3 separate regions of the Homo sapiens genome follow, and all the other regions are linked to region 3. The links come from fine-mapping of genetic effects on gene expression. A gene starts in region 3. Each other region holds a variant in brackets. All regions are shown on one strand. Distances are from middle to middle.

Region 1 (10,935 bases), 76 kb after region 3:
GGTGACCTTAGCAATTTACCTGAGCTCTGGGTTTCAGCTTTTTTCAACTGTAAAATGGTAGGACCAAACCACCTCCAAGGACCCCTCTGTTTCTAATAATCTGCTTTTAAGCACTTTCTCTGAGGCATGGGAGCAAGTTGCTTTCTCAGGTGGAGACCTACATTAAGTCAACAATTGCTAATAAAGTGAGAATGACCTTTTAAAGAAGCAAACCGGTTCATCAGTAACCAGCCATAAATAATATTGTTATAATTCTCAGCAACTAGATTCAGATAAAATTGCATTCCTGTGGGTGACTCTTTTCAGATGTGCTGACTTTAATAAACTGGAGAAACTTAGTGGATTTCTAGTTCTTCTGTTTGAGAATTTCCCTGGCACACAATAGATAACTGTTGAAAAGAAATGTCACTATTAGTTCTGAGCCTGGAGACTCACTAAGGTGAGATTCAAAAGTTTTTATCCTGAGAGGGGCTAAGAAAGCCCTCAGTAACTCAGTTTGGACTTCATTAACTCTCTCTGTTAGGGAGAGCATATTATAAAGAGTTGAAATTTGGAGTTGGGTAAGGCTAACATTGAATCCCGGTTCTGCTGCTGATTGTCTGTCTGACCTTGAATTAGTCATGTAGTTCTGTCTTGTATGGTTGTTTCAGCATGTCTAGAATGGGGATCACTATTGTGCCTTCCTCATGGGTTGTGAGGTCTTGGGAGGTGGTAGGGAGAGGCAAAGATCAGTGCTCAGAAAGACAGGTTTTGTCATTATTCAGTCAGGACACTCTTTGGTACCCAGAGGAGTGCCACTTCTGACTGTTTACTGTAGCAGGTAAGTTTGTTATTCCTGTCTTTTCACCTGTCAGGAGTCAGTGTTGCTGTCTGTTTTGCCGCTTGGTGGTCCAGGGAAATCAGTTCACATGTCGAGAGAGAGAGAGAGAAACAGATAGAGACTGGTTAGTGAGAGTGTTGATGCTCATCTGAGAGCATTTCGATATTGGGATTTCCCTGCTTCTCTCATGGGCTTTCACTCGAGAGCTGGAAAGTTTCTAAAGTACCCACGATGTCTGGATGGAGAGAAGCCATTGTCCCTTACCAGGGCATAAAGCAACACACTCCTATGGGGGAATTTGGCCTGAGAGATAACGTAATTATATTAACTTGGTATCCAGATCATAGCCCAGAAAACAGACTGACTTTTCTCTCCTGGTCAGCCGCATTCAGGATACACCTAAAATCTGCATGGACGTGCTTATCTACTTTTTTCCCCAAGTCATGTATATTAAGTGAAATACGGTAAAATTCACCCCTTTTAAGGCACACGGTCCTATAAATGTTGACAGACGCACTCAGTGATGTAACTACCACCATAGTCAAGACAGAACATTTTCATCACCCCAACACGTTTCCTCCCTGGCCCCAGCCCTCGCACCCACAGCCGGCTGTCTTTATCACTTCCCAAAGGTTTCAAGAGTCCACTTGTCAGAAGTCTTGACATTTTTCTAGAAAACATTAATTGTCACGTCCCGTATTTGCAGATTGTCACAATCCCCTGCAGGACTCCACTCTGGCTCCAGTCAGTGAGCCTCGGCCCCATCACATGTCCATTTATTCAGGGGAGAGTCCCTGAGCGCCTCTCCGGTGGGAGTTGTGAGCATGTGTCATGACTGGACACAAAAAGTTCATACTTTGGTTGAGGAGAGATGCCATTGACCAACTCAAAGCTCCATACGGGTATATAGCGTTAACCAGCAACTTGAGGTCAGAAGTGTCACAAGGTCGCGGCCCATCGTAGTTTCGGCCGAGTGACGGGGACAGTGAGTGAGAGGCACCCAGGGGAGAGAGGCCAGTCTGTGCTGGCGGGTCAGGAAGGGGCTCCAGAAGTCAGGGGCATGGTGAATGCTGCCTGTTGCTCAACCCCCACTCCTGTGCCACTACCTCATTGAAGCCTTTGATTCCTCAAACTGGAAAAAACACCCCACTTCTCTAGCTTCCATTGTATGGCCCCCTTCTTTTTCTTTTCTTTCTTTTCAGTGCTCACGGCCTTAAACTGACTCTCTAGATGGTTAGTCGCTGGCCTATAGCCATGTATATGAACTTCTTACAAACCGGATCCTTGACTGCATCGATCTTCCGCTGCTCCTTCTAGCCCTGGGAGGCTGGGAGGTGCAAGCAGGTGTTCCATAAATCTCTGTTAGTTGAATAACCGACTAGGACGTCATGGGGAGAAGCAGTGAGAGAAAGAATTCCTGGTTGGAACAAAGGGATCTGACTAGGGGGATACTTGAGCTGCTGCCATTGTTTGTAGTCCCAGCTGGCTTGCCCTCTTTCTGTTAGGAGCAACGTGCAAAGGAGAGATGAGTTTTGAAATATTGGAAGTTAAAATGGCTTTGACTTAAGTCACATTTATCTAAGACCTTCACTGCCTTAGTATGCAAGGTATCGCTGCGCCCTCCCTCCTCAAACTCTCACACCCCATTTGGTTTCTACCTCCACCCACCAGCTGCTTCTTAGGACTTAGGATAGGGCAGGCCATTATCTTGTTTTCCTGCCATTTTATTTTACTTGGCTGGAAGAGGCAGAGGAAACTAGAGAGAGGTTGGTGTAGGTCAGCGTCAGTCTGTGTCTAGTGACCTGCATAATTGATGTCCTCACCCTCACGTAGGATAATCCAAAGGATGAAATAAATGGGCTTGGGAGTCTGCCTGCCATATATAGCCTGCCTGCCTTTTCTTTAATTTTATCCCCACCAGGAAAACCTAAACAGGATCCGGTTTCCCTTCCATTCTGTATGCTGTGGCTTTTGGACTCTTGTATCACAGCCCCAAATCCCCTTTCTGAGCCTCTTTTGTGCCTTTCCTTTCTTTATTAAAGAACCTATGAATTGCCACTGCCCTCTAAAACCTTCCCTGCGTAGAAATCAGATAATGTGCTTGTCACTCCACAGACAGCAATTAAAACAGGAACCTGTTTATAAACAAAAATACTTCAGAAAATAAAATACTTGGAGTGATTAAAACGAGCCTCTCCATGACGCCTGGCGTCTCAAGGAGACTGGAATGCGTTCTAACCTGAATACTTTGCCGATTGGTGAGAAAATGACTGCAACATAGAGCACCACATATACTCCAAGCTGTGCGAGTCTGGACAAGTCACTCTCCCTCTCTGTGCCTGAGTTTCTTCATCTATAACAGGATAACGATGCTTTCTCTGTCATCCTTATGGGTTAAAATGTTAAAATAACAGATACAGGTATGAGTAAAACGTTGATGATGGTGGCAAAGTGCTTTGAGGACCTTGGGAATTATTTCTTCACCTTTATTTATTGAAGCTAATTTTCAGGGACATTTCATCCAACTAACAGTGGTATGAGGTCAGTTTCATTCAAAATGAGGGCAGGACCTTAGGGACCTTCAAATTAAAATGGCCATGAAACATCATGACTTACCTATGAGAATGGCCAAAATAAATAAACAGTGATGACACGAAATGCTGCCGAGGCTGTGGAGAAATTTGATCACTCAGACACTGCTGGTGGGAATGTAAAATGGCACGGTCACTCCGGGAAGCAGTTTGGCAATTTTCTTGTAAAATTAAACATGAAATTACCATATGACTCAGCAATTGCATTCTTGGGCATTTATCCCAGAGAAATGGAAACTTATATTCATACAAAACCTGAACACAAACATCCATAGCAGCATTATTTGTAATAGTCAAAGGCTTGTAGCAACTCAGACATCCTTCAGAGGGGAGAATAAACACACTGGTACACCTATACCGTGGAATACTACTCGGCAATTGAAAAGGAACCGATGACTGATACACACAACAACTTGGGTGACTCTGCGGTGAATTATGCTGAGTAAAAAAAAAGCCAGCCCCAAAAGTCTACTGTATGAGTCCATTAATATAACATCCTTGAAATGAACAAATTAATGAAATGGGGAACAGATTAATAGTTGCCCAGGGGTCATGGACAAAGAGATGGATGGGGAGGTACTGAAGGAAGGTGGCTATGGTTACAAAGAGTAACGTGAGAGAGATTGGTCGTGATGGAACTGTTTGGTGTTTTGACAGTGGTGGTAGGTACATGAACCTTTATGTGTGATAAAATTGCACTTAGTCCTGGTGCAGGTACACACTCACACAAAAGAGTGCAAGTAAAACTGAGGAAATCGGAACAAGATGGGTGGATTGTTATTTATGTCAATACTCTGGTTGCGATATTGTATTCTAGCTTTGTAGCCTATAACCATTGGAAGAAGTTGAGTAAAAGGCACACAGGATCTCTCTGTATTATTTCTTACAACTGTATGTGAGTTTACAATGATCTCAAAATAAACAATATAAGAAAAATATTTGAGGCAGTTTTCAGAGCCAGGGTGGTCAGAATCCATCTTATCAGTGTTCCGGGGAGCTGATGCTACTAATGTTTGCCAGAATTGGAGATCTGACTCTATTCCATTGTGCTGATATTTCAGCCAGTTGGACATGTTGCCTGTAGAGCAGGAAGAGAGCTGGGAGCGTAAGCAGAGCGCCACCCAGCTAGATGGGGACCTTGGGCATTTATCCCAGAGAAATGGAAACTTATGTTCATACAAAACCTGAACACAAACATTCACACAGCTAGATGTGACACAATTGGGTAGATTTTCATGGCCCTTCCTCTTTAGTAAGGTTTGATAATGTCTCCCTGGATTGTAGAACCCAGAAAATAAGCACAGCGCCTTCTTTTGGAGCAAGAGCAGGGAGCAGAAATCGGTCAGGTTCAAAGTACTGTCATGTCTGGCCCTGGGGCTGGGGCTGGATGCCGCCTCTGGTCCTGTGGCCTCGGCTGTGACGGGGTTGACTGTGGAATTCTGCTGAGCTGGAAAGGACATGGCCACCGTGCGTGCCATTGGCAGGCATGCTGGAGATAGACCTGGGGAGCCAAGTGCTGGCCGGCTGCTCCCTGGGAGACATCACACCAGAGCTACAGAGCTCAGGCGTGTTCTTCAGCCCCATGGCAGGGGACAGATGGTGATGGGAGCCTGGCGACCTGGCTCTTTTGGGGAAGACTCTTTCTTGAGAAAGTGTGCTAGAATTGTGAGGTCAGCAGACTTTGCATGATGGCTGTCTTTTCTTTGAAGTTGTAGGACAGTCCCATCTGGACAGCAACATTGAGAATCAAGAGATTGTCACCAATCCGCCAGACATTTGCCAAGTTGTAGAGGTGACCACTGAGAGCGACGAGCAGCCGGTCAGCATGAGCGAGCTCTACCCTCTGCAGATCTCCCCCGTGTCTTCCTATGCAGGTAAGCGTCAGCGGGAGGCTCCGGGAGGCGTGGGAACCGGCCGCGCAGTCCTTTGGTCTAGGGTCACCCATCTCACCACCCCACGGAGCATCCCTCCTCTGTCCTAGGAGTTATTCTCCCTGGAGTTTTTCATACTTTAATTATCTTGATCAACATCTTCTTGGACACTTTTGTTCTCAGGTAGAGGACAGGATCACAGCATTTCTTTACTCAGTTGGCCATGACATTTTTTATTTATTTATTTATTTTTTTTTTTTTT[G/TG]AGACAGAGTCTCGCTCTGTCTCCCAGGCTGGAGTGCAGTGGGATGATCTCGGCTCACTGTAACCTCCGCCTCCCAGGTTCAAGAGATTCTTCTGCCTCAGCCTCCTGAGTAGCTGGGATTACAGGCGCACACCACCATGCCAGCTAATTTTTGTATTTTTAGTAGAGACGGGGATTCACCATGTTGGCCAGGCTGGTCTCGAGCTCCTGACGTCAGGTGATCCGCCCACCTTGGCCTCCCAAAGTGCTGGAATTACAGGTGTGACCCACAGTGCCTGGCCTCCCATAACATTTTTATATATGGTTACAGATAAGATTTCTTTAGGGCAGTAGTTCATCAGAGTCTAATTTATTAGCCCAAGTTATTAGAAATTTGGCAGAGTGTTTTAATGGATTCTCAGTTTGAGCAGGCTGGATAGGACCTTAGAGATGATCTCTTCCTGTTCCTTCATTTCTGAAAGGGAAGGGGCTTGCGCAGGGTCGTACAGTCAGCAAGTGTTTGGGCCAGGACTTGACCTCAGCCTTCAGACCCCAAGCTCATTGCTAGATCCATTCCATCCACCAAGCGTACTTGTCCTTTCCACATATTTTCTCTTTCTTTTTATATCTAGTACAGGTTCTAATTAGGCCAGATGACTGAGCCATTTCCAATTCTCCAGGGACTTGGCTACATAATGACAGGAGTTGGCCCAGGCAGAGTCACAGGGGGAGGAACAGATCCAGTTGGTTCTTCCATTCTTCCAGAGTAAAAGGATGGCTCCTCTCGTTCGCCAACATTACTTCATCTTCTCCTCTCTTCCTGATGATCTCCATTGAATTTTGTGGAAATCAATTGTAATTAGGAAATATAAATTCTGAGTCAGTGTTACTGCTTGCAGATATTAAAAATAAAAAGCAGAGTCCCCATCCTGGGAAACTGCAGTTCAGCTCTAGCAAATAGTTCAGGGATTCTTCCCTGTGCTCTTTACACGCTGCCAAATGGGATGTCCTCCAGTAGGTGCCACCCCCAACACTGGCTCCGACCAGCGTTGGAATTAGAGTTGACTCAAAGGACTGTTGTTTGTGAATTATCAGCCACTAAGTCTAATCTCATTTTCCCTGAATGCCAACTTTCTTTTTTTTTTCACTTTTAAAAATTGTGGTAAAATACATTAACATAAAATTTACCATTTTAGCCATTTTTAGGTACACAGTTTAGTAGCATTCAGTGCATTAATGTTGTCGCAGCCATCACCAGCATCCACCTCCAGAACGTTTTTCATCTTGCGAAACTGAAACTCTGTCTGCATTAAACACTAAGTCCTCTTTTCCCTCCTCCACCCCAGCCCCTGGCAACCTCCTGCCTATTTTCTATCTCAGTGAATTTGGCTATTCTAGGTACCTCCTATGAGTGGAATCATAGTGCTTGTTGTTTTGTGACTGGCTTATTTCACTTAGCATAGGTCCTAGTGTGCATTTATGCTAGGAGCGTAAGTGGAATGTGAGAATAGACCTTGGCCACAGGAAGATTATAATCTGTCAAACAGGATAAGCTTGTCTTCGGTGCTTTATTCAGCAAATGCGTTTTGGACTCTTACACGTGCCAGTCCCTGTTTGGTCCTTGCCAGAGTGCAGTCACAAGAACTACTATGTTTTGCAAATTTATTGTGCCCTGGGAACCATGCTCAGTGCTTGGGTACAGTTGACTGTTGTTGTTGTTGTTTGTTGTTGTTGTTAATAGAAATAGGGTTCTGCCTTGCTGCCCAGGTTGGTCTAGAACTCCTGGGCTCAAGTGATCTGCTCGCCTCAGCCTCCCAAAGTGCTGGGATTACGGGCATGAGCTGCCATGCCTGGTATGATACAGTTGACTTGTTTAATTATAATTAGAGTAACCCTGTCAGCCTGGGTATCGTCATCATCCCGTTTTTAAAAGTGAGGAATCTGGCTGGGTGTGGTGGCTCACGTCTGTAATCCCTGCACTGGAAGGCTGAAGTGGGAGGATCACTTGAGCCCGGAAATTGGAGACCAGCCTGGGCAACATAGTGAGACCACACTTCTACAAAAAATAAAAAAAGTTAACCGGGTGTGGTGGCATGTGCCCGTAGTCCCAGCCACTTGGAAGGCTGAGGCAGGAGCATCCCCTTGAGCCCAGGAGTTCAAGGCTTCATTGAGCCCTGGTTGCACCATTGCACTCCAGCCTGGGTGACAGAGCGAGATCCTGTCTTAAAAAAAAAAAAAAAGAAAAAAAAATATATATATATGGATCTGCGGCTGGCGTGGGTAGAGCAGCGTGTCTGAGGGAGGAACGATTGGGAGCACAGCTAGAACCCATGAGCCGTTGATGCCAAAGGCCGGTCCTTAACGCCCGCCCTGTGTCGCTGCCCTGGACAGCGCACGGGCTCTGCCGTTCAGAACACAGCCACATCCCGTGATCTCATTTGATTTTCACAAGGACCCACCAAAGGAGGCAGAGCAGAATGTTTATGCCTAAATTTTACAGTAGAGCTAACCGAAGCGTGAAACACTCAGCCACTTTGCTTATATTTACATAGTTATGGCTAAAAACCCATGACTTTCTTCTATAGCCTGCTGCTGCAGGCATCGTTACACTCCATGTGGTTTTCTTTCTCTCTTCTTTTTTTAGGGGGTTGGAGCTTTAGAATAGACTTCTATGTTTATCTGTTGAGTAAGACTTTTCTGAGGTCTTCTTGGGGATTCTGGAAAGACCTCTTCTTGCTGTTCTGCCAGCAGTGGCATTTGCTCAAGCAAAAGATTCCGGAGAACAGCAGATCCATGCAGAGAGAAATGAACATTTCATTACTCTCTTCAGGACATTTGCATAGGTTTGAAAGGAAGGATTTCAGTGCCAGGATGGCAGTCAACAGGAGGTTTTGCTGGAGCCTGGCTTTTCAGCCTGGCCTTTGGTTCTTTCCGTTGTTTTCATTGTCTGGATTCTCCAGAACCTCGTGGAGGGAGGCTTACTGGTTGGAGGCAAAATGTTCCATCGCTGCTGATGTTCTAGAGCTCACAGTGGTGTAAAACATTTCCCTGCTACTGACTGTAGCTAATTTTAGTTCCTCCGTCAGAAATTGTATAACATGCTGTCAGGAAAGGCAGCTTTCTGCGTGTATTCACCTTTCTTGCTTTATGTTCTCCAGTAGAGTCGGCCATTTGCCTGTTTTTCATGATGGAGTTCCTTTGTTTGGGCTGTTCATCTGAATTTCAATCTCCTCTGACCACCTTTTTTTTTTTTTTTTTTTTTTTGAGACGGAGTCTCGCTCTGTCGCCCAGGCTGGAGTGCAGTGGTGCGATCTCGGCTCACTGCAAGCTCCACCTCCCGGGTTCACGCCATTCTCCTGCCTCAGCCTCCCGAGTAGCTGGGACTACAGGCACCCACAACCAAGCCCGGCTAATTTTTTTTGTATTTTTAGTAGAGACGGGGTTTCACCGTGTTAGCCAGGATGGTCTCGATCTCCTGACCTCGTGATCCACCCGCTTCGGCCTCCCAAAGTGCTGGGATTCCAGGCGTGAGCCACCGCGCCCGGCATGCTCTGACCACCTTTATTCATCTGTTTGGGAAACTGGTATTTGGAGGCTGCTGTTTGCTAGTTTTTCCCCCTACTGATCGTTGAATCATAATCCCAGTAGTATATTACAAAACCACATTCAGTTTTGCAAGTCTGTCTTCTCCTCTGTGGTCTAAATATTATGATGAGAAAGAGAAGAGATAGTACTTGCGTTGGATGTTTTAAGACAACATAAAATTCTAGTGTGATTTGTGAAACTTTCATACTAGGGAGGGACATTTCAAAGTGCCACTTTGGGAAGCTCTGGCGGAGAGACATGTCATGTTTAAAGGTGCATTACAAAGTGACCCCTTGCCTGATCTGTGGCATCAGAATTTTATTAGGTGGTTGATGGTTTAGTAGAAGAAAACCACAGTAGAATAATGGGGTGGGGGAGGATGGGTAAGAGGGGCTGGAGAGTAGACTCGAGAAGAAAACATCATCTGAAGGACTCACTGGCTATAATGAGAGAGTGGAGATCGCCTGCTGACCAGCAGCCATCAGTAAAGGCTTTGAATCCTTCGGGAAACCACACCAGGCTTGCATTTTGTTGGGCAGAGCAAAGACACAATCGCTTTGAGATTAAGAGGATTCCGATTTGAAAATAATTTACTCCTGGTGAAAGTAATTGAGAATATGATCAATAGAAAGAAATTCAAATCAAACTTGCTGAACAAGAGCCTTCCAGAAAGTGTAGCAGAATGTCAGAGTGCAAAAAGCCTTTCAGGTGAAAATGCATCCTCTCCCTTCCCGCAGTGTTCCTGCTTAGACAATATGTATATCCTCAGCGAGGCGTTAAAAACTGGACTGGATAGAGAGTGAACCTACAACCAGTGTCACCCTAGAACTGGAAGAGCTTTTGAGATCATCTAATCCAAATCCTCCCCTTCCCTCCCACCCTAGATGCTTTCAGGAAAACTGAGACCAGAAAGGTTAAGTGAATTACTCATGTGCCTGTTGGTACTGTACGAACACCTTCAGCTTCTTCATTTGTTTGGAGTTGCTGGAGAAGCAACTCCAGACTTCTTTATTCCATTGTATTCGAAGTAAGTAATAAACAAAAAGCAAAAACAAATTCAAACTAATCAAAAGGGAAAATGAAATGACAACGTATGTTGATAGTTCGATAGTAACACTGATCTGGAGGCCCAGCTGCAGTCAGCTCCCTTGTGTAAGAAGTCAGCGTGGAAGTGGCAATGGTGGTCAAACCAAGGAAACAGAGGACACGGGGCGCAGTGCATCCAACAAAGCACTTGGAGCCACCGATTCTGGGGTCACAGAGAGAACTGCTCCCCTCAGGGGGAGGTTCAGGGTTCTCTGCTCCTAAGCTAAGGTACTGAAGGCCCCTTTTTGAAACTGTCAGTGTCCTAATAGGGCGCATCTTCCTGACGACTTCAGATGCTGTGGAACTTAATCTAGACACGACGCTCTTTAACTCGCATTTGTGTCAGCTGAAAACATAAGTTCGGAGCATGTGTATCTTTTCTTATCTGCAGCTATTTCCCCGAAGCTGAAAACTGGGTACTTAAAGGAAGTTAGCATCCCGGTCACATTCATGGGCGGTGCAAGGTCTTACCCGGGAGCCTTACCCCAGGATCTGACTTCCAGCCCCTCCTGCACCTGCGACTGGGGCTGTGCTGGAATCCCAGCCCCCAAAGCATGCTTGGTTGCGTATCTTTGTTTGTATTTGGAGGGGAAAGGAAAAGAAGACAGTGATATTTATGGAGAGTCATTAGGAGTGAAGAGCATCTGAACCCGTATGAAAGGAAGAGAAAGCTTGGCTTTGGAGCACAAAGAAAGCTAAGCATAAAATGGAAAGCGGATCTTGAAATGTTGTCAGAGACCA
Region 2 (10,935 bases), 160 kb after region 3:
CGCTCTATTGCCCAGGCTGGAGTGCAGTGGCATGATCTCAGCTCACTGCAACCTCCACCTCCCGGGTTCAAGCGATTCTCTTGCCTCAGCCTCCCAAGTAGCTGGGATTACAGGCACCTACCACCACACCTGGCTAATTTTTGTGTTTTTAGTAGAGACGGGGTTTCACCATGTTGGCCAGGCTGGTCTTGAACTCCTGACCTTGTGACTCACCTGTCTTGGCCTCCCAAAGTGCTGGGATTACAGGCATGAGCTGCCATGACTGGCCTGCATTTATTTTTTGATCCGACATTTTATTTGAGAAAATTGTCAGTGATTTATTTTAAAAAGAGCATTTTTTTTTTCCTGATGGGTGTTAAAGTGGATATTCCTTTCTGTTGAATAGGATGTGGTATACAGGTATTAGTGTGAGGCTGATGACTAAGAGCATGTGGCATTTCTGTGAGTGGCACAAGAGCCTAATAAAAATCAGTATCTACCCTGAAATTCTAAGTGAATTTACCTTGTGCCCAGGGCTTTAACTTTTCCCTAGATTCTGGAAAAGCATACTGTCCATGGCCTAAAGTTTGTGGGATGAGAAAGTTTTCACCTGGTGAAATGTTTGTAGGTGATTACATTTTGGGGGCATTGAATTTTTTTAAAATAAGAAATCTAAAATGTGATACATACACACCATGGAGCACTATACAGCCATAAAAAAGAAAGAGATTATGTCCTTTGCAGCAACATGGATGAAGCTGGAGACCATTATCCTACGTGAACCAACTAACACAGAAACAAAACCAGACACCACATATTCTCCCTTATAAGTGGGAGATAAACATTGAGTACACAAGGACTCAAAGAAGAGAACAGCAGACACCAGGGCCTTCTGGAGGGTGGAGGGAGAGAGGAGGGTGAGGATCGAAAAACTACCTGTCAGGTACTATTCTTATGACCTGGGCTGTGGAATAATCTGTACACCAAACTCCCATGACACGTAAGTTACCTACATAACAAACCTGCATATGCACCCCTGAACCTAAAATAAAAGTTAAAAGAAAGAAAAAAATCTAAAAATCTTGTTGACATATTAAATATTATGTGTGTGTGTGTGTGTGTGTGTATATATATATATATATATATATATAATTTTTTTTTAGACGCTGTCTCGCTCTGTCACCAGGCTGGAGTGCAATGGCATGATCTCGGCTCACTGCAACCTCCGCCTCTCGGGTTCAAATGATTCTCCTGCCTCAGCCTCCCAAGTAGCTGGGGCTACAGGTGTGCACCACCACGCCCAGCTAATTTTTGTATTTTTAGTAGTGACAGGGTTTCACCATATTGGCCAGGATGGTCTTGGTCTCTTGACCTTGTGATCCACCCACCTCGGCTTCCCAAAGTGCTGGGATTACAGGCATGAGCCACCGCACCTGGCCAAATGTTATACTTTTTAAAAAAAATAAAAACAAACAAACAAAAAACTAAAATCTACACAAATGATTACTTACTCCTTAAAAATCAGGTAGGACAGCCAGGTGCGGTGGCTCATGCCTGCAGTCCCAGCACTTTGGGAGGCCATGGTGGGTGTCTCACCTGAGGTCAGGAGTTTGAGACCAGCCTAGCCAACGTGGCAAAACCCTGTATCTTCTAAAAATACAAAAATTAGCCAAGTGTGGTGGCAGATGCCTGTAATCCCAGCTGACTATGGGAGGCTGAGGCAGGAGAATCGCTTGAACCTTGGAGGTGGAGGTTGTAGTGAGCTGAGATAGTGCCACTGCACTCCAGTCTGGGCGACAGAGTGAGACTCTGTCTCAAAAAAAAAAAAAAACAAAAGATCAGGTAAGGCGACTTGAAGTTTTAAAACATTTATGCAGAGGACATATTACAGAAGAGAACATGTACTTTTCCAGTTGCAGAATGTTTTCATCTGATTTTCTGGAAGCCCCATGACATAGCAGAGTTCTTTTCTTGCTTATCCCCCTGGTTTTGTTCCATCTTTTGCTACAGCCCTTCTCAACCTACTTCATCATTATGCATTAATTAATCCATATGGTAAGTTAATTAATAATTATCACTGATAGATTAATAAGTATATTAAAAAGAATTATTTCATAATAAAATAAACAATTCATGGTATTCATTAATAATTTAACAATTATGCTACAGGAAATTATTCAGTAATTAATACAAATTAAAATGGATTTCTTTTTGTCATATTTATTCATGATTCTCCAAAAGACCTCCCCCTAGATATTTCTGATTCACCACCAATTGGCTTTATTCTCTTGACACCATAAGAAACAAGCTTTTTAATGCTGGAAACATTTATTAGAGTTGACAGCCGTGCTGCAGAGGCGCGGACTGAATGTTCCAGGCGGATGTTTATGCTCAACTCACGTGTAAGTAATCACTGTAAGTCATCTTACGAAACCCCATGCAGCCTCGGTGCTGGTTAATAACTAAGTTTGTGTGCAAATTTATAGGACTATTTATAGGACTAGGTATTAATGGATCAGACAAGAGAGGGAAGTGAGCTGTAGAGAATTTAAGTTGCAGAGAAGAACTTGAACCCAAGTCCTCACCCCATAAACGCTACTGTTTTCTTCTCTGAATAGTCCATTGACACCAGGGAGTATGGCTTTAAGAGGAGCTTTGCAAAGTTTAGTTGAATTAGCTGATAAAAGTGCTTCAGATGTTAGGAAGCCAGTAGCCACGTCAGGCCCCCATTTACGAGAAAGCTTAGACTAGCCCATCCACCTGGGCAGAATTTATCCTTTTTAGTGCATGGGTCAGGTCTGACATTGTTGGAGGTGTGTGTTCTCGCTGCAAATAGCTGGGCTTTGTTGCTAGAGTTGACCATCTTGTTGTAGGCTGAATATTAAGGCCTAGGTCCATATGTGCATGTGTGGTCTTTGACATGGATGGACTTTCCTGCTAGGAATTATATCAGATGACATGTCCTCAGACAGGAATGAGGACCAGAACTCCCAAATGGGACAGGAATGAAAAGGATTCTAGGTGGTAGGAGTTAAGTATGGCCCCAGGATCTTGGAGGAAATGTGGGGAACCTACACAGAAGACGGAAAAGCTGTGCTCCTGCCTCAGCCTCCCGAGTAGCTGGGACTACAGGCACGTGCCACCACGCCCAGCTAGTTTTTGTATTTTTAGTAGAGACAGGGTTTCACCATGTTGCCCAGGCTGGTGTCGAACTCCTGACCTCAGGTGATCTGCCCACCTCGGCCCCCCGAAGTGCTGGGATTACAGGTGTGAGCCACCACACCTGGCCAAAAGCTGTATCTTCTAGGGCAGAAAATTCGGAATTCTCTGTGTTCATTTGCTGTCCCATAACATTGGCAACATTTTGGTTAAATGGGCCAAGGTTGCATTGGCTGTGTAACTGGGGAGGTAGGCTGAGTGAGGAAGCAATGAGGGGAGGATATTAGAAAAAAAAATGAGGGAGAGGCACCTCTCCCTACAACCCTGCTGAGGTCAATAGACCTAAAGGGACACAGCCCTGTGACTGAGTCCACCTGCCCTTCTCAGTACTGGGGCATGAGGGATTTCCCAAAGCAGATACCTTTTTGTGGTTCTTTTAATATTTCAAGGTCAAACAAGAGAGATGCATTTGTGCCTCTATGCAAAGAGAAATTCAATATGTGTGACTTCTTTCATGGTCTCTTTTATGCCCACAGTGTGTCAGAGGTTCTAGTGCTATGGAAATTCCCCAGCCCTCCCACCATCATTTCGTTTATGACTATCTGCCTGTAAAGTTTTGGTTTCTATCTGTTATCATGTTCCACCTTGGGTCTATCGAAACACCAGCGACATGATGTTAATAGGTGCCCAAATTATAAGGTTAAAAAAATAATTTTATGGAAAAATTTCTAGAAAATTGACTCCTTAAAAATTGCAACCAGGGGCTTCCTAAAAGAGATTAAACTGAAATTTACCTTTGGGGCAGACTGTTCCTGCTTGACTGGGTCCTTACCATTAACTAGATGGCAATTGAACTTGCTTGTTGTGCAAGGACCCTGTCTCCACCAGTTTTTTTATGGTGCTGATAGAAGGTGGCACAAAGTGGGAAGGAATGATTCCCGGCCCCACATGGATTGAGGGTGAGTTCTGCTGCAACCTGCCGTGCAGCCTGCACTTAACCTGCCGGTTCTTCTTGCTGTGAGGCTGTATTCTTCTTTGTGCAGGTGTTTCTAGGAGCTGGAAAGCTCACGACAGCATTGTGCAGGAAGGACACAGAGACAGAATCGCTGCACCAAGCTGGAGGAGAGAATGGCACCAGAACGAGCTCTGGCCCAGCGCTCTGTGGAGTGGACCTATGAGGCCCACTGTAGGAGCATGGTCCCACCAATTCAGATGGCTGCAGGGGCTGGGAAGGCGATACACAGGACTAAAAGAGACCATGGGCATCTGGCAAATAGGAAAACATGGGCTCCATTTAGAGGAAGGAGCTGTGTCTTAAGCCATTTTGTGTTACTGTAAAGGAATACCTGAGGCTGGGCAATTTTTATATATATATATATATATATAAAATGGTTTATTTGGCTCACGATTCTGATGGTTGGAAAGTTCATGATCAGGCCTCTGCTTCTAGTGAGGGCCTTGCTCTGCTTCCACTCAGGGTGGAAAGTGGAGGGGAGCCGTGTGAGCAGAGATGGCAGAGATGGCATGGCAAGAGCAAGCAAGCGTGTGGGGAGGCGCCAGGGTCATTTTAACAACCAGCTCTCTTGGGAACTAATGGAGCAAGAATGCATTCATTACCATGAGGAGGGCACCAAGCCATTCATGAGGGATCCCCATGACCCCCATGGGACCCCCACGGGACCCCCATGACCCAAACACCTCCCACCAGGCCCCACCTTCAACACCGGGGATCACATTTCAACCTGAGATGTGGAGGGACACACATTCCAACTATAGCGAGCTGCTACAGAGCTTGAGCTGGTGACTGACATGCAAATCCAGAGGCTAAATGTTGTTTTCAAGAGAAGACAGAAATTTTTACTTTTTTATTGAGGCAGAGTCTCACTCTGTCGCCCAGGCTGGAGTGCAGTGGCATGATCTTGGCTCACTGCAAGCTCTGCCTCCCGGGTTCACGCCATTCTCCTGCCTCAGCCTCCCGAGTAGCTGGGACTACAGGCGCCCGCCACCACGCTCAGCTAATTTTTTGTATTTTTAGTAGAGACGGGGTTTCACTGTGTTAGCCAGGATGGTCTCGATCTCCTGTCCTTGCGATCCACCCGTCTCGGCCTCCCAAAGTGCTGGGATTACAGGAGTGAGTCACTGCGCCTGGCCAAATTGTGATATTTTAAGTGTAAACTATCTCAATGGGAATATTGATAACAATTCATATATATTTTTTAAACTGCATGACCCAAATGAAACAGGTCTGTGTGCCTGATTTGCAGCCTCTGGACTATTATGTGCAAGTGGAATCCTGTGGCTTGGGGTCAGGAAGCAATGCTGCAGGCCTCTGGGTAAGGGATGGGGACTTCCCCGAATGGAGTGGGAATTCCCACTGCCGGTCCTTCTGGAAAGTGGCCTGTCCTAGGACAGGAACTGAGGAACAGGGAGGCAGAGTTTGCCTCCCATGGGTGGAGGAGCTCCTTCTCTCACCGAGTCTCTGGAGGGCTGCCCTGCATGGTCGGGGGCAGGTGTGCTCACAGCACCCTGGTGGGGCAGGCCCTGCTCCAGGGAGGCAAGCTCGGGGGGCCTGACTGAGCGGCAGCAGTAGCAGCCCCAAGTCCCCCTGTTTTGAGCGTCCCTTCTGCTGACACTTCAAACAATGCCTGGTTAAAGGTTATAGCCCAGCTTAAGCTGGGTGCGGAGAGGAATGAGGTGGAGCAGAGGAGAAGGTGGGGAGCGCGTGCTCCTTCTGCAAGGCCTAAGTCAGGGGACTCAGTGGCACCAGAACAGTGGTCATCTTGGGAGTGCCAACAGCTGGGAAGGCAGTCCTGGTCGCTCAGGAGCGGGGAAGAAGAGCAGAC[G/A]CTCAGGTACGTGGGAACCTATTCCAGAACACGTGTGACACAGCCCAGGGGAACCCCCAGAAATAATAGAAAGGTGCTTTGAGGGGTTTAACTTCCCATGTGGGCAGACGGGAAATGCATGCAATTGGTTGTAATTAGAGTATTGATGGAAACTTGCCCCCTTTTTTTGTAGACACACGTGGTTGAAGCCGGGCCCTTCGTTTGAAGAAATGACAATAGATGTTTGCCTGGAGTTTTAGCGTTTACAAAGTGATCCACTAACACCGTCTCATGGAATCTTCACATCAACGGTGGGGAGAAGGTGTTGTAGGCATTACGATCTCTGTTATAGATGTGGAATCTGGGGCTCACTGTTTGGGTAACTTGTCCGAGGTCATGCAGCTAGTAAGACTCAGATACAAATGCAGGTCTCAGAATTCTAAACCAGGGTTTTCCTCTCTGCCTGGCACTCAGGGACAAGGTGAGGGGATGAACTACTCTAGTCCACTGTTATGGGTTGAATTTTATCCCCCTAAAAGATAGGTTGAAGTACCTATGGATGTGGCCTATTTGGAAATTGAGTCTTTACAGATGTAACCAAATTAAGATGAGGTCATTAAGGTGGGCCTTCATCCAAAAGACTATTGTCCTTGTAAGAAAAGGGAAATTTGGCTAGGCATGATGGCTCACGCCTGTAGTCCTAACATTTTGGGAGGCCAAGACAGGAAGTTTGCTTGAGGTCAGGAGTTTGAGACCAGCTTAGGCAACATAGTGAGACTGCATCTTTACAATTAAAAAAAATTTTTTTTTAATTACCAGGGTATGGTGGCTGGCTTATGCCTGTGGTCCCAGCTACTCAGGAGGCTGAAGCAGGAGGATTGCTGGAGCCCAGGGGTTTGAGGCTGCAGTGAGCTATGATTGTGCCATTGCACTTCAGCCTGGGCCACAGAGTGAGAACCCCACTCTAAAAACAAGAAGATGAACAAGAAGAAGGAGAAGAAGAAGAAGGAGAAGGAGAAGGAGAAGGAGGGGAAGGGGAAGGGGAAGGAGAAGGAGAAGGAGGGGAAGGGGAAGGGGAAAGGGAAGGAAATGGAGAAAGGAAGAAGAAAAAGGAAGAAGAAGAGGAAGAGGAAAAGGAGGAAGAGAAACAAGAAGGAGAAGAAGAAGAAGAAGGAGGAGGAGGAGGAGGAGGAGGAAATTTGGACACAGGTGCTCACAGGGAGAAGAAGGCCATGTGGAGACAGACACAGAGGGAAGAAGATGTGAGACAGATGAGGGCAATGCTGCTAACAGCCAAGGACCTCCTGGGGCTACTACACACTGGAGGAGGCGAGAAAGGGTCCTCCCTTCAGGGCTTTGGAGGGAGCACCGTCCAGCTCACACCTTGATTTTAGACTTCCAGCCTCCGGAGTCGAGAGGGAATGCACCGGTGTTGTTTAAGCCACCCTGCTGTGGTATCTGTTATGGCGGCACAGGCAGAAATAGGGACACAAGTGCAGGTTCAGGGCAAGGTGTGCGAGCACACTCAGTCCCTGGCCTCGGAGTCTCTCTGGATGGCTTCTTGCCTAGGGTGACTGACAGAGGGATGGATGATATGAAAAGGCAGCTGTTCTCCTCCCGACCTAACCCCAATTCTTACTCCATGGGTTCATGACAGCCCATTCTGCTGGAGACTGTGTCTTAAAACTTTCTCCCCTAGTTTCTCTCAAGTACCCCTCGTGAGCTGTGATTTCACTGGGCTTTCAACTCTTAGGCCATTTTCTTTGTGCCTTTCTATCAAAGCTTTATATCAACTCAAACCATGTCTATAGTAGTTTTCCATTTTCCTTTTTTTCTTTTTTAATGATTGTAATTTTTTCAAATGGATTATGTATTTTTATATCTTTTTTCTTTTGAATTTACTTCTTTTTTAAGAGCCATTTTTTGTTTGGAGCAAAATTGAGCAGAAAGTCCGGGGAGTTCCTCGCTGCTCCCACACACACAGCCTCCCCGCTGTCGATATCTGGCACCGGAGGGGTCTGACCCTTACAAGTGAGGAGCCTATGTTGATGCACCATTATCACCCAAAGCTCATAGTTTACACGAGGGCCCACTCTTGCTGTGGAACCACGTTCCTTTTCCCCACGTGTTTTTGCATCCCTTTTCTTTTTTCTACCTTCCCAAACCCTGTGATGTTCGGAAGAGCTATGATCCCTATTCTATAGAGAGGACACTCAAGGAAGCAGCTGATAAGTAGAACCAGGACTCAAACCCAGATCTCATAACTCTAAATCCAGCAGTGGTAGTTTTTTCTCTTTAATACAATTATGACACTCCCTTTTGAACTTGTGATATATACCTGCCGCTAACACACACACACACACACACACACACACACACACACACACACACACCTTGAGAGGCTGTTGCCAATTGTTCTTTAGGCATCACACACAGCCCCGGCACACAGCAGGGGCTTAATAGATATTCCTTACATCGAAGTTGAAAGTCTTGTCTCAACATTCTGCTCTCACACACTCGCCTACAAACTCATCAAATAATAGAGCATCGATTCTCATTCTCTCCCTCTCCCTTCCTTTTAAATCTCCTGGGGCTTAGAATCCATAATTTGTGGAATTCCCGCATTCCCACAGGTGTCCTGGGAGGTGGGCAGGGCCAACACTTCAGCAGCTTCTGCAACGCAGCAGACTCCTGGGCCTGATGTGCTAGCTGCCCATTTGCTATGGGCCTTCGCTCCCCAGAAGCACCTCTCTGGGTATGGGGCAAACACCCCTCATTGCTGCAATGCAGCCTCTGCTGGAGTGAAACAGGATGCTTGATTTCTATTGCGTCAGTAGCAACACTGCCCAGAGGTCTAAGAGAGGAAGTCAGAGCAAAGCCCATCAAAGCCCACCCAGAACAGCAGGGAAATTCCAAGTCATCGGTTTCTAGTTCTCCCCATGCGTGTGGTGGCCCTGCTTTGTGGTGAGCCTCCAGGACTGTCCTGCTGTGCCTCTGAAGCACCTGCTCACAGAAGGGTGACCCATTGAGGCATGCAGTGGGTTGATACAAATGTCAACTCCAGCCCCTGTCATCAGCTAAAGGTCAGCAAATGAGTTCTCTGGCATTTGGGGTCTGCAGGAGCAAGTGAGTACTGTGAACACCTGCAGTGTGGAGACCACGTCCATCTAATTGGCGTCTATGGGGCCCAGTGCCAGGCTGGGCCCAAGTGTCGATTCAGGAAGGGTGTCTCAGGATGCAGAAGCCGCCTGATGCGTGCAGAGGTGGATAGGCCTTCAGCCTGCTCTCCTCCTCTGTCCTGCAGACCGGGTGAGTTATGTTAGCCTCTGCTTTCCCTTCCTGTCCTGAGCACAGCAATCGGGACAACCACACATCCTCTGAGAGATGATAAAAATAATGAGACCAAGAAGACTGCACCCAAATCGATGTTTTGTCTTTGCGCAGACCCCATAGTGTGTCTTGTGCTGCAGAGGGAAGCACCTGGCATCTTGGGGCCTCTTCTCTGCCCCCTCCCCACTTTGGGGAGGGGTTTTGTCGGGGGCAGCCTCCATCCTTTGGAATCCTGTCTGTGCTCTGATTCTCCCTGATGGTCTTTATAGCTTTGCATTATTTTGCTTTCAGAGAACAGAGAAATGTGAATAAGAACAGAAACATGGCACCGGTGTCCTCAGCTTCTTCCCCACCTTCACAGAACTGCTGCTGCAAACTAGTAGTTTTGAGAAATGATGAAAAACCTGTGGTTTTCCCCAAATTCCAAGAATCAGAGGCAGATTCTAGGAGGGTGAAGATGGTGTGGGCTCAAAAATGGTCATGCGGCACATCTTCTGAGGAGATATGCTGCCCATTAAAAGGGCAAAACAGGAGTTGGTGTGTGGGCAGTTCCCGCATCACACATAAAGGCTTCACCAGTGAGGCTCAGCCCAGGAACTGCCTGCCCTTGAGGCTGGGGGCTCACAAAGAAAGCTTTCCCCCAGCTTCTGATGTCCATGAAGAGCAGAGAGCATGCTGGTGGTGATTCATAACCCCCTGAAATGTATCCTCAGTTTGCCAGAGAAAAATTTCTAGGACCCACCTAATAAGTTCATTCATTGGTTCCCAGACTCGGCAGGTTTTACCAGATCCCTCACGACTGGTCCCAGCTTCTCTCCCAGCACATTACTTGAAGGTACACAAATAGTCCACTGTGCTTTGTTTCCTCTGTTTCTTCCAATTCTCTCTTCTGCTTGACCAGCTTGTACTTGAAGATCTAGGTTTTGGGAGATTCCCGGGATTGCTGCCAGGCACTGCCTGCCCCCATCTGAGTAAGGGGTGTAAACCCCAAGAGTATCTGAGACAAGTGTCAGTTAATCTAGGATTGTATATTGCCAAGGTTAAGAACATGCCCAGGACACAGCCTTGGGAGGTCCTGACCACATGTGCCCAAGGTAGTGGGCCTACAACTTGGTTTTATACATTTTAGGGAGACATAAGCCATCAATCAATACATGTAACATGTACATTGTTTTGGTCTGGAAAGTTGGGACAACCGGAAGGGGGAGCTTCCAGGTCACAGTCAGATTCAAAGACTTCCTGACTGGCAGTTGATTGAGTTATTATCTAAAGACCTGGAATCAAGAGAAAGGAATGTCTGGGTGATGGTAAGGGGTTGTAGAGATTAAGGTTTTGTCATGCCGATGAAGCCTCCAGGTAACAGGCTTCAGAGAGAATAGGTCATAAATGTTTCTACTCAGACTTAAAGAGGCTGTTCTATCAGTCATTCCTAAAGGAAGGAGGGTATCAAGAGGCTGTTCTATCAGTAATTCCTAAAGGAAGGAGGGTATCAAGACGCACGTCTGGCTCCCCCTTCCCCTCATGACCTGAACTAGTTTTATAGGTTAACTTTGGAATGCCTTGGCTGAGGGGCCATGCATTCAGATGGTTGGGGGCCTTAGAATTTTCTTTTTGGTTTACAGGGACTTGCACTCACAGTGGCCTG
Region 3 (10,935 bases):
CTCAGCCTTTCAAGTAGCTAGGACTATAGGTGCACGCTACCACACCCTCTTAATTTTTTTTTTTTTTTTGTGTGTGTGTGTGTAGACAGTCTCGCTATATTTCCCAGGCTGGTTTTGAAATCCTGTCCTCAAGTGATCCTCCTGCCTTGACCTTCCAAAGCTCTGAGATTACAGGAATGAGCCACCATGCCTGGCTGACAATTAAATATTTTAAAATAAGAAAACAAATATAACAATATTAAAAATTTCTTCAAATATACAGATGACCAGTGAACCAAGTAGTCTCCTAAATTTAGGTTACAAATTTGAAATTTATTCTTTAAAATATCTTCAATACCTGAAACTATTATAGTAATTGCTCTGCAGAACGTCAAGGCAAAGCTATAGACACCATGTCCCTCTGTCTTTAAAGGTAAAAGGACTACTTTATAGTTTGTCACCATAGAGAAATAAGGAATATTTCACATATTCCACAGCCATTTGGGAAATTATGCCAAAAAACACTTCATGAAGTTTTCAAAGTTGAAAGCCTTCCTTTGGGAAAGGAAAAACACACGCACGCACGCACACACACACGCACACACACAGACACACAAACACACAGAGATGCACACACACACAGACATAGACACACACACACACACACACACACAGACACACACAGAAATCCAGGCAATTTTAGAGAATGTGTTTTCCCTTCAGAACAGGGCAGAATGAGTATCACCCAAAACTGAGCAATGTATTACTCAATGTAAACTCATGATTTTCAGAAAATAGTTGCAACAAAATGACCCCCACTTCCTAGTTTCTTGTAAAATGGAAGGAACCATTACATAAAGTAACAGTCAAACATGCTCAAGAATTTTTCAACTTGAGGCCAATGACCTTTGAACTTTGACTGATGGTTTTTTCAATCCCATTGCTGTTCTATTGCCGCAAAAAATTTAACTTGGCTGTGTGTTTATTCAACTTGGACTTCACAATAATGTTCTTTGCAACTCAGGACTGTTAATCTGTGGCTTTTGTATTGGCAACTGTTCTGGCAAGGGTGGAACCCTCGTTTTCCATGACTTTCTAACCTCCTGAATTGCAGCACCTTGGAGGGGAGCTCCAGTGGCCAAGACAGAAGTGGTCCCAGTGATTCTGGGGAGAAAACTGAGCATCTGCTTGCAGACCTGGGGCTCCTGATTAAATCATAGCTATAAATACTTAGGTTTTCATTTATATGCCTTCATGTTACACATTCCTAAGTTGCATGTACAGTTCTGAAGGCTGTGATTACAGGTGGAGATGATGTCGGTGCCATTACTGGGATGCCACAGTGGAAATCAACATGTCAACCTACAAGACTGTAAGAAAACGTCTTAGAAGGCTGGCACTTTCATTCATTTGGTTCACTGCTGTATCCCTAGTGCTGGGAAATGTTCCTGAGCACTCAACAGATTTTATTTGAATGATCATTTTATGAAACTTTGTTTCAATTTTAGGAAACTAAGTTAAAAACCCATTTGAAAGGGGTCAACTTTGAATGTGTCTTTACATTTCTTCCTTAGTTAAGATCCACTCAAGGAGAGATCCGGCACTATTGTGCTCAAGTAATATTGTCTGCACCCGACTCCCCTGAAAAGAAATGAGTCCTGAGGCAGCCAGGCAGATCTTTTAGGATATTCCATCCCACAGGTGAAATACAAACATGCTTCATCCAGGAGATGACTCTAGTTTCACTATAAAAGACCCTTCAACTTTTTTCACGTTAGACTGAAGTGTTTGGTCAGATTTCCTCAGTATGACAAAGGTTACTCTTTTTTTTTTTTTTTTTTTTTGAGATGGAGTCTCGCTCTGGCTCTGTCGCCCAGGCTGGAGTGCAGTGGTGTGATCTCGGCTCACTGCAAGCTCCACCTCCCGGGTTCATGTCGTTCTCCTGCCTCAGCTTCCCGAGTAGCTGGGACTACAGGCGCCCACCACCACGCCCGGCTAATTTTTGTATTTTTAGTAGAGACGGGTTTTCACCGTGTTAGCCAGGATGTTCTCGATCTCCTGACCTCATGATCCACCCGCTTCGGCCTCCCAAAGTGCTGGGATTACAGGCGTGAGCCACTGAGCCTACTTTCTTACCCAGGCTTCCAAAAAGGCTGGAGTTTCCACAGAGATTTATTACTATATGCATCTCATCAAAGGGCTAAGATACTTCTTGACTGTGTATATCAGTACCATGTGGCTGTTTTGGTTCATTTGTACATTTTTGGTTTGCAGTGACATGTCATCAAGGGCCTAAGAACAGAAATTCATTCTGTCTATGTTTTATGAGTTTAGGGGCCTGGAAAATTGCAAGCAACACCCATGCTTCAGGGAGGCCCCAGGACTCAGGAAAGGGGGCAGTCTGTGAGTCCTCCCAGTTTCCCAGCTAATCAATGAAGTGAACAGTGCAAGGCTGTGGAAAAGATGTTCTCTCTGACTTGGGACATGTATAATTTGTTGCACCTGAGACATGTGTAGGAGTTAATGTGGTCAGAGCTCAGAAGTTACAGATTTTGGAGTCATCAGCAAATAGTGATATCTGAAGCCCTGGGCGTGGAGGAGAACACCCAAAGATAAAGCATGTAGAATGAGAAAATAAGAGGGTTGAGGATAGAATGCCTGGAAACACCATAATTTAGGGGGCTGGCAGCAGACGAGGAACCGGCCAAGAACTAGAATAGGACAGCAGGCTGTCACATGGGCATCGTGGAGAGCAGCCTGCACAGTCAGCATTCTTAAATCCTACACACAGACAGAGGAGATGCGGATTGGAAACGGTCCCTTAGAAAGATCACTAGAAGGAAATACATAAAAATATCCACAGGTCTATTCCTGACTAGTGAGATGTCAGGTGGCTTATGTTCTTCTCTCACCATTCTTGCATCTTCCAAATTCTGTACAAGAAACATTAATTACATTTATATTAAAAAGCTATTAAAATATAAAACAAGGCTCTGATCAAGTCTAAAATATTTTATGAGAGCCTGATGAAAAGAGCAAGTAATTATTAATTCACAAGTATTTCAGTGCCTGTGTGCTGGGCACCATGCTAAAGATAAAACAATGAACAAGAGGACAGCTCTGTTGTTTGACAAAAAGGAGCGGAGGCTGGTTTGGCAAGGGAGGGATGTAGGGCTTGTGGGACACAATGGCAGGAGATGAGGCTGGAAAGGTCGTTTGGTGCCAGATTACAATGGACTTTATGTGTCTTGTCAAATAATATGGTCTTTATTCTGAAGGCTACAGAGAGGCTTTTGAGGGGGGCAGTGTTAGGTTTGGAATTGTGCTTTACCTGAAGTTAATTTTCGACTGGATTTTGGCAGTAGTGTGGCTGCTGGCCTGGGGGAGTCCAAGCAGGAGACCAGGAGCACAGGCAGCAGGCAAGTGCAGTAACTGAATGAAGGCAGTGCCCTGAGCACGGGCCAGGCCCAGAGATATTTAGGGGTAGCGTCAATAGGATATGACTGATTGGATGTATGTTGCACGAAGTAGGGCATTAAGAAAAAAAAGGAACAACAAACTTCTTCCTGCTTATCAAAGACCATAATGAGGGCAATGGCCTTTCCTGAAACACGTTCCTTGGGAAGTCAAGCATGAGCATCACAATAGTTTGGAAGCTATCTGCACCCAGCAAGTGAGTTTCCAGTTAGCCTCACGCATGGCAATAGGTGCTTAGGATGCAGGATGCAGGTTCGTGGCCCCGGCCCTGTCTGGCTCCCCTGAAATCACACCACAGAGGCAGCTGCCTTTCGTAAACACAAGGCAGGCAGTGTTAGCTGGTCCAACTAGACCTCATTCTTTCTTTCACCTGGGGCCTGTGCACGGAGGCTGCTGACATGAGTGGACTCCCACGTGTGTGGTGAACGAGAAGTTCAAAGTGACACTTTGCATTCTTCCCTTCTTCTCCACTCTCCTCTTCCCGCTCCAGGAAAAATAAAGGAAGATGATTGTTTTGGTACAGGAAAAAAAAAATGAATACTAGGTTTTTAACTTGTGTCCCGGGTTGGGTAAAGAATGACAACTATTCTATAGTTTGTATAGACTTTCCCTTAGTGGTCATTGCTATATGACATAAGAAAGTCAGTGCCTGGGCCAGGCACTGTCACAGGCCTGTAGTCCCAGCTACTTGGGAGGTTGAAGCAGGAGGATCGCTTAAGGCCAGGAGTTCAAGGTTACAGTAAGCTATGATAGCACAACCTGAGTGACAGAGCAAGACCCTCTCTTTTTTTTTTTTTTTTTTTTTTGAGACAGAGTTTCGCTCTTGTTGCCCAGGCTGGAGTGCAATGGCACAATCTCGGCTCACCACAACCTGCGCCTCCTGGGTTCAAGCAATTCTCCTGCCTCAGCCTCCCAAGTAGCTGGGATTAGAGGCATGCGCCACCAAACCTGGCTAATTTTGTATTTTTAGTAGAGATGGAGTTTCTCCATGTTGGTCAGGCTGGTCACAAACTCCCGACCTCAGGTGATCCTCCTGCCTTGGCCTCCCAAAATGCTGGGATTACAGGCATGAGCCACTGCACCCGGCCTACCCTGTCTCTTAAAAAAAAAAAAAAGTGAGTATTATAATAGAGGGGATAAGGAATAATGTGTATGTGAGGTCTATTTCTGAGACCAGAGCCACAAAACAGAATCCTGCACCTTAGCCATTTTCTTACCACACGCGTTTTCTTGGATACTTCCATTTTTCCAGTCTATATAATTCAATACTTCTGTGACAGAGAGGTGTTGGAGTTTTTTGTTTTGCTTTTGTTTTTTCGCAACTCTTTACATACAAACAGCTATGGTCTCCCAGGAAGGAACTTCCTCTGTTGAGTACAGAAGTCTGGGAAAAGACTGGTGAAATTGCATGCGAGGAAGAAACAGGTCTAACTAAATGTGAATCTATACTTTTAAAGCAAGGGACCACAAAGGGTAGGTCCCAAGGAAGTTGCATTGCTTGCTGCACTTGTCACACGGGCTGTACTTTCTTCTCTCATTTATTTCCATTTACAGCGTTGAAAACTGAGGCCTTAGGCTTTGGTTGAAAACCGAGGCCAAGGGTGACCAGCCAGTGAGTTAAGGAGGCCCCAGCCGAACTTTGCTGGAAGTGCTCCAGCATAAAGCCTCTCTCCAGAACCAGCCGCCACTGAGACGTCTTGAAGTCAAAGTAACTCACACCCTTGTCCACCTCGCCCTGCGGTGAAGAAACTTCGGTCGCACAGGCTCCAGAACTCATCTTGGCGTGGGCTGTGACTTACTGGGGGATGGGCCTCCTTTTCGTTCTAGCTCCTAAATGGAGCGGAGCGCCAGGTGGTGTCAGAGGGGGCGGCGGCCCCTCCAATGGTGGCACCCTCAGCCACGGATAAGGTTCCAATTAGGTAAGGACGCAAGTAATGCTGTCGTTTCGGCTGACTGCTCCTTTCATTCCTTGGAGGTGGTCGGTGTCACAAAACGAATTTTCATTTACTCTCAACAGTCACACCAGCCCTGCTAACTGGATGGTCGCAGCCCCGTGCCTTCGCCGGACGCCCTCCTGGAACCTTCAGGCCACCCTGAGGATGGAGACTCGGGTGCCCGCTCTCCTCCCCTACCGCCGCGGGCCTGCGCCCCCCGCCCCGGACCCCGACTCGGACGTTCTAGCCGCACGTGCGGGCGCCCCTGGGTGCGAGCCGCGGACTCACGAGCCGCTGCTTGTTGCTCCCGCCGCCGCGACCTGGGGAAGCGAAAATGAAATTGACTTTTCCGAGAAATGATGAAAGCGGCGCTGCCCGCCAATGAGCTGCTGCGGCGAACTTCCGCACCTCCCGGCCGGGCCGCTCGCGCCCTCCCTCCGCCTCCACCTCCCGGTTGCACAAGCTTGAAACAAACACTGGGGAGGAAGGGCGGAGGGAGGAGGGCGGAGAGGGGAGGCGAGGGAGGGAGCGCGGCCGGAGGAGGGCGGGGGGTGGGGGGATTTCCAGCCGCGGCTCTTCGCAGTTTCCTCTCCTTGTTTTGCTTTCGATCTGGACTGTTCTCAGGCAAGCCGGGGAGTAACTTTTAGTTTTGCTCCTGCGATTATTCAACTGACGGGCTTTCATTTCCATTTCACATACCCTAGCAACACTTATACCTTGCGGAATTGTATTGGTAGCGTGAAAAAAGCACACTGAGAGGTAACATTTTTCAAATAATAGTTGTGACTGTGTGTGTTTCTCTCGAGGGCATGTTTCTGGGGACTGTGGGGGGCCGTGTGTGTATGCGTGTCCTGATGCCTTGACACGATGTTTTGCAGACGGAAAATGCCGGGGTTCATAAATATTAATACTGATTTTTGGAGGAACAGTCGGCGCAATTATGGATCATCTGATTTTAGGGGAAGCAGGTTCTGCTGCTGTTGCTGCTGCTACTGGGGCTGCTGAGGCTGCGAGGAGGAGGAGGAGGAGGAGGTAGAGAGGGAGGAGGAGGAGGAGGTTGGTGGAGGTTTAATTTCACTTTTGGATTTGCAGATGCGGAGAGGTGGCTCCATGGACACAGACCTGCTGTGTGTGCTTCTGCGCCCCAGGTGTTGTGTGTGGGGGTGCAGGTCAGCTGGAGTCGGGCCTCATTTAAAACAAAATTGTGTGTATGTGCGTGTTTGTGTGTGCGCGCGTGTGTGTGTGTGCAGCCACCGCCGCCACCGGATCCGAAGGAGGGGAGCGGGTCCTTCTCGGTGCCCGCGGCGGCGCCTCTCCAGGCTGCCTCCAGCGTAAATAAGCAGGCACCGCTCCCCGGCCGGGAGGAGCGCCTCCAGCCACGGCCAGAGGAAACTTGCTGGGGCGCCCCGCGGCGGTCCAGGGGCTCGCCTGCCTGCCGGGCTCGGGGTCGGGTCGCGGGCGTCGGGTGCCAGCGGCCGGGGCGGGAGGGCGGGCTCGGAGCCGGGCCGGGCGCCGGGCCTGGCCGACGCGCCCTGCTTCCTGGGGGCTGGGCCGCCGCCGCCGCCGCTCAGAAGGGACGCCGCGTCCTCCTTCCCGCCGGCCAGCGCCCGGTCGGGCCCTGGGGCTTTGTCATTGCACTTGTCCCAGCGCGCCAGGGGCTCGGGCGGCGCGTCCCAGGAAGGCACCGTGCCGAGGGGTCAGCCGCCCGGGCCGCGGCCTAGCGCCGTGCGCCCCCGGGTCCCCGCAGGCGCCCCCGGCCGGCCTCGCGCGCTGGGCCTGACCCGCCTCGGCTACGGAGCGGGCGAGGTGGGGGCGGGGAGCCTCCGGGGACCGAGCGGCGCAGTGGGGGCCGGCGTCCCCTCGGGGTCCCGGGGCGCGGGCCGCGGCGGGGTGGGGACGCGAGTGCCCGCCCCGTGCCCTCCGACCCGGCTCCGGGCGCCGGGTGACATTCGCCCGCTGGCCGAACATGGTTGGTGCAAAGCCGCGGCGGCCGCCACTTCCTTTCCGCCTCGCCGGTAGGGCTCGCCCACCGAGTGAAGCCGGCCGCGGCCAATCGCGGCGCCCGCCTGCTCCCAGTGGCACGGCCTGGGGGCCGGCGTCCGCCGGGGCTGGGGAAGCCGTTCCAAGTTCCAAGGGTCGCGGGTGTAACTCATGCCCCTCCCAGCACGCGCCGGCGTCTCCCCTTGGCCCCCGGTCTGGGTGCGTTTGCCACCCTCTCCTCCTTGTTCCCTAAGAAGCGGGGGAGGGGAAGGAGGCGGGCAGCCTGGGCAGGGCGCCAGAGCCGTGGTCGGGCACCAGGTGAAACGCCCGGGTCAGTCTGTGTAGGCCGGACCCTTGGCGCTCGGCTGCGGATGTGATCCCGGGGACTGGCGGCCGAGGTAGCTCAGAAGAGCGAGGTGGCTTTCGCTCGTTTCTGACCCGCTACTGTCTGAAACTTGGGGACATATTGCCCGCCCCCTCCCTCTTCAACCTCCTCCCTCCGGTTGCTCCTTGTCCTTGGTTATGGAAGGAAAAAACTCAGTTGTTCTAAATGAGGAAAAGTGGTGCTGGCATTCGTCTTCAGCCACCGGCCTCCTTATGGCTGTGACTCGGTCTGCTTTTGATGAATGGCCAGGAGGTATGGAGGATAGTTAGATTTCCTGTTGTGGATTTTCAGGCATCACCGAGACTGCTGTCAAGCCTGCAGTCATTTACTAGTTTTCATATCGACTGCAGGTTCTCTTTGAGCAGTTCAGTTTTTGGTGCTTAAGGGCAGGTGCACAACGGGGTCTGGGGTTAGACCAGGCGGTGGATAGTCTTGATGCTAGGCAGATGCAGTTATCCCTACCAGGCCCAGAGGGTGACTCTGTTTAACTTCACCACGCACGCAGATTCAGGATTCTCTGATTTCCCCAACTTTCCTTTATTCTTCTTTTAGTGGGAGAAGGGGCAAAAGTAGAAACCTAAAAAATCCTGGGAAAAGGAGCCTTTTCTGAGGAAACTTCAGCAGATGAAATATTTAAGACTTGAACTGGGATCTCTAGGGGGAACGTTGGAACATCTATTGATTGATGTGTCAAAGTCCGGAATTTCACTGTAATTAGTGAACGATTATAACTTGTAACTTTGTCTGTTATGTAAGAAATTACATTTTGGTCTCTTAGATCCAAGAGTTCTTGTCTGTTACGATTTGTAACTGCTTGTTAAAATTAAACATTTACATATTTCATTCTCAGTGAGTTGTCATTTTTTTGTTAGAGAAAGTTCCAGTTATTTCAGATTTACTTACCTGTAAAAATGTCAGCATAATCAAAAGTAAGGATCTGTAGTCAAACTGGAAGCAAATTATGGCAAACACATGCGTGCCATGAAGTTCTGACAGCCTTATGAACAATGGTCCCACTTTTATCCCACTTTCTGAAACACTTTATTAGGCAAATAGTGCACCAGAGCAAAAGATGTTTAAACTTACTGGAAAAATAGACACTTTGGATGCTCCACATTTGATGTGCATCAATTTTCTCATGTTACCAACGATGTTATATTTTTATTCTTAACATCATCTCGTACAAAACTGTTGTTTTTAGAGCATTTTCACATAATATCCTTTTGATAGTGAAAAACCACTGTACTCTATCTAAATGGAGTATCTGGGTTATAGTTCCCTTATCTGCCTTATACCAAAAAGGGCTTAACGCAGACAAGAGAATTTATGTACACACTCAATAAATATCCTTAGAACATCTATTATAAGCCAGACACAGTGCTAGCCTCTGTATACTCAACTGACAGCGAGAAAGACAGCATCTTTACACTAGGTTGTGTTCTGGTGAGTGAGCTGACCATTAACAACAAAAAATATAGTTATTACCTTTTGGGGTTAGCTGTAAGGAGGATAATAATAATTTTTAACTATATCTCGTAAGTGTTGCTTTCATGAACAATTGAGATACTGTATATGAAAGAACATTGCATAAATTATGGCAGTCTACAAATGTGTAAGGCATTAACTTTCAAAATTATATCAGATTATTCTTAGTGTAAAAAGGCCAGATAATCATGACTGGATTAGACACTATCTTTCTCATAGAATTTCCAGCAAGGAGGGATTTTACTTCTGAGCATATATAAATAATGATAAAAGATTAAACATGGAATAACTTTTATATAAAGTATCAAAAAAATTTCACAGTGGAATCCGATATTGTCAGTGAATTTTTTCCTGTCAGAAGGAAAGTTAGGTGGTATCCATGGAGACCAAATGATATGGAAATAACAGTGATTGGACCAATGTATTTTCCCTCTTTATGTCAGATAAGAAAATCTTCCCAAGCCTCTCTGTGCTTTAGTCTGAATCTTCTTCACTCTCGTGTCAACTTCTTCATTATCTGTCATTGCAGGTGTGCACTGGGCTGATTGTAGTATTTTGCTTTTACCACCTTTTTTTTCTTTTCTTTTTTTTTTTTTTTGAGGCAGAGTCTTGCTCTGTTGCCCAGACTGGTGTACAGTGGCACACTTTCAGCTCACCGCAACCTCTGCTTCCAGGTTCAAGCAATTCCTGTGCTTCAGCTTCCCGAGTAGTTGGGACTACAGGTGTGCGCAGGCGTGCGCTACCATGCCTGGCTAATTTTTGTATTTTTAGTAGAGACGGGGTTTCAGCATGCTGGCCAGGCTTGTCTCGAACTCCTGACCTCAGGTGATCTGCCCACCTCAGCCTTCTGAAGTTCTGGGATTACAGGCATGAGCCACTGCGCCGGCCTGCTTTACCATCTTGGCTCATGTGCATTTATTGAATGCTTACTGTGTGCCCAACACTGTATATGTGACAACATACATGAAAGTAAATATTAACTGATAGCATATATTTATAACATATATTACAATACGTAATATATGCAAATAAACGAAACTGCGGTGAAATGTCAGTTATTATTAGTAAAAATTAGTTCTTCTTTTCATCTGTATGAGACATGATGTTCCTTCCTGCACAGGGGTAGGAGGTCAGGACCTTCGGTCTCTGCCTGCCCCGTCGGCCCCCTGTGTTTGGCCTGAGTGTAATCAGTGGTCGGTGCACGATGCCAGCTTCATGCACAGTGTGCTGAATTGAGGAGTGGCTCTGGTGGCGGGAGTGACTGATGGAAAAGTGGGTGAGGAAGTTCCATCAAACTTTAATTTATCAACAAAGAACAAAGAATGATGAATAACATATAGGGTCCAGATTTGAACATGAAGACAGTATTTTTTATAGAGTACCAAGGAAAACACACAAGCAGGAAACACAGCTCACAGGTCCCCTTTGTCCCTGGGACTCCGTCTGAGGCTCGTTGGATTCAGAGCAAGCAGCAGGCCTGAAGTCTTGGCATTGACCTTCAAAGATCCCCTAAAAATAATTTTCCCCCTCAGAAGCTCCATCTTATGACAAACTGTCTCTGAAACAAATTGTGTTTATTTAAGTAGACTTCATGTATCCTTTTTCTTTTATTAGAGTCAAAGTCTCACTCTGTCCACCAGGCTGGAGTGCGGTGGCTCGATCATAGCTCACTACAGGCTCAAACTCCTGGGCACA

Which allele goes with the higher level. Alleles are on the strand shown, and positions count from the first base shown. SD is a standard deviation of normalised expression in the study named. Not every link is listed here.
As copies of G replace A in region 2, the expression in whole blood of the gene that starts at base 5,978 in region 3 goes up (small effect, 0.09 SD a copy in GTEx).

What was found. PIP is the estimated chance that this variant, and not a neighbour inherited with it, causes the effect. A credible set is the group of variants that fine-mapping cannot tell apart.
Region 1: its variant is the best candidate, but not a certain one, in a credible set for the expression of IRF2 in monocytes after LPS (Fairfax 2014, PIP 0.84).
Region 2: its variant is the best candidate, but not a certain one, in a credible set for the expression of IRF2 in whole blood (GTEx, PIP 0.88).

The regions. Positions count from the first base shown.
Region 1 is chr4:184,393,265-184,404,199 of GRCh38, reverse strand. IRF2 (interferon regulatory factor 2) reads left to right here. Exons shown (of 9, transcript NM_002199.4): 7 at 5,121-5,285. Among named protein-coding and RNA genes, the nearest start is that of LINC02362, 16 kb to the right of the region's middle. RefSeq lists an enhancer at 8,553-8,762 and a silencer at 10,573-10,748. The variant G/TG (reference allele first, on the strand shown) is at 5,545.
Region 2 is chr4:184,312,294-184,323,228 of GRCh38, reverse strand. MYL12BP2 (MYL12B pseudogene 2) reads left to right here and starts at 8,900. Exons shown (of 3, transcript XM_047416561.1): 1 at 8,900-8,924; 2 at 9,081-9,269. The coding sequence starts at 8,900. RefSeq lists enhancers at 3,561-3,860, 5,248-5,747, 8,430-8,589, 8,720-8,989, 8,908-9,409. The variant G/A (reference allele first, on the strand shown) is at 5,982.
Region 3 is chr4:184,469,593-184,480,527 of GRCh38, reverse strand. It overlaps IRF2 (interferon regulatory factor 2), which reads left to right and starts at 5,978. Exons shown (of 9, transcript NM_002199.4): 1 at 5,978-6,149. IRF2-DT (IRF2 divergent transcript) reads right to left here and starts at 5,726. Exons shown (of 1, transcript NR_186573.1): 1 at 3,224-5,726. RefSeq lists enhancers at 4,940-5,269, 5,620-5,809 and silencers at 5,840-5,959, 6,770-6,819, 6,900-7,589, 7,650-7,719.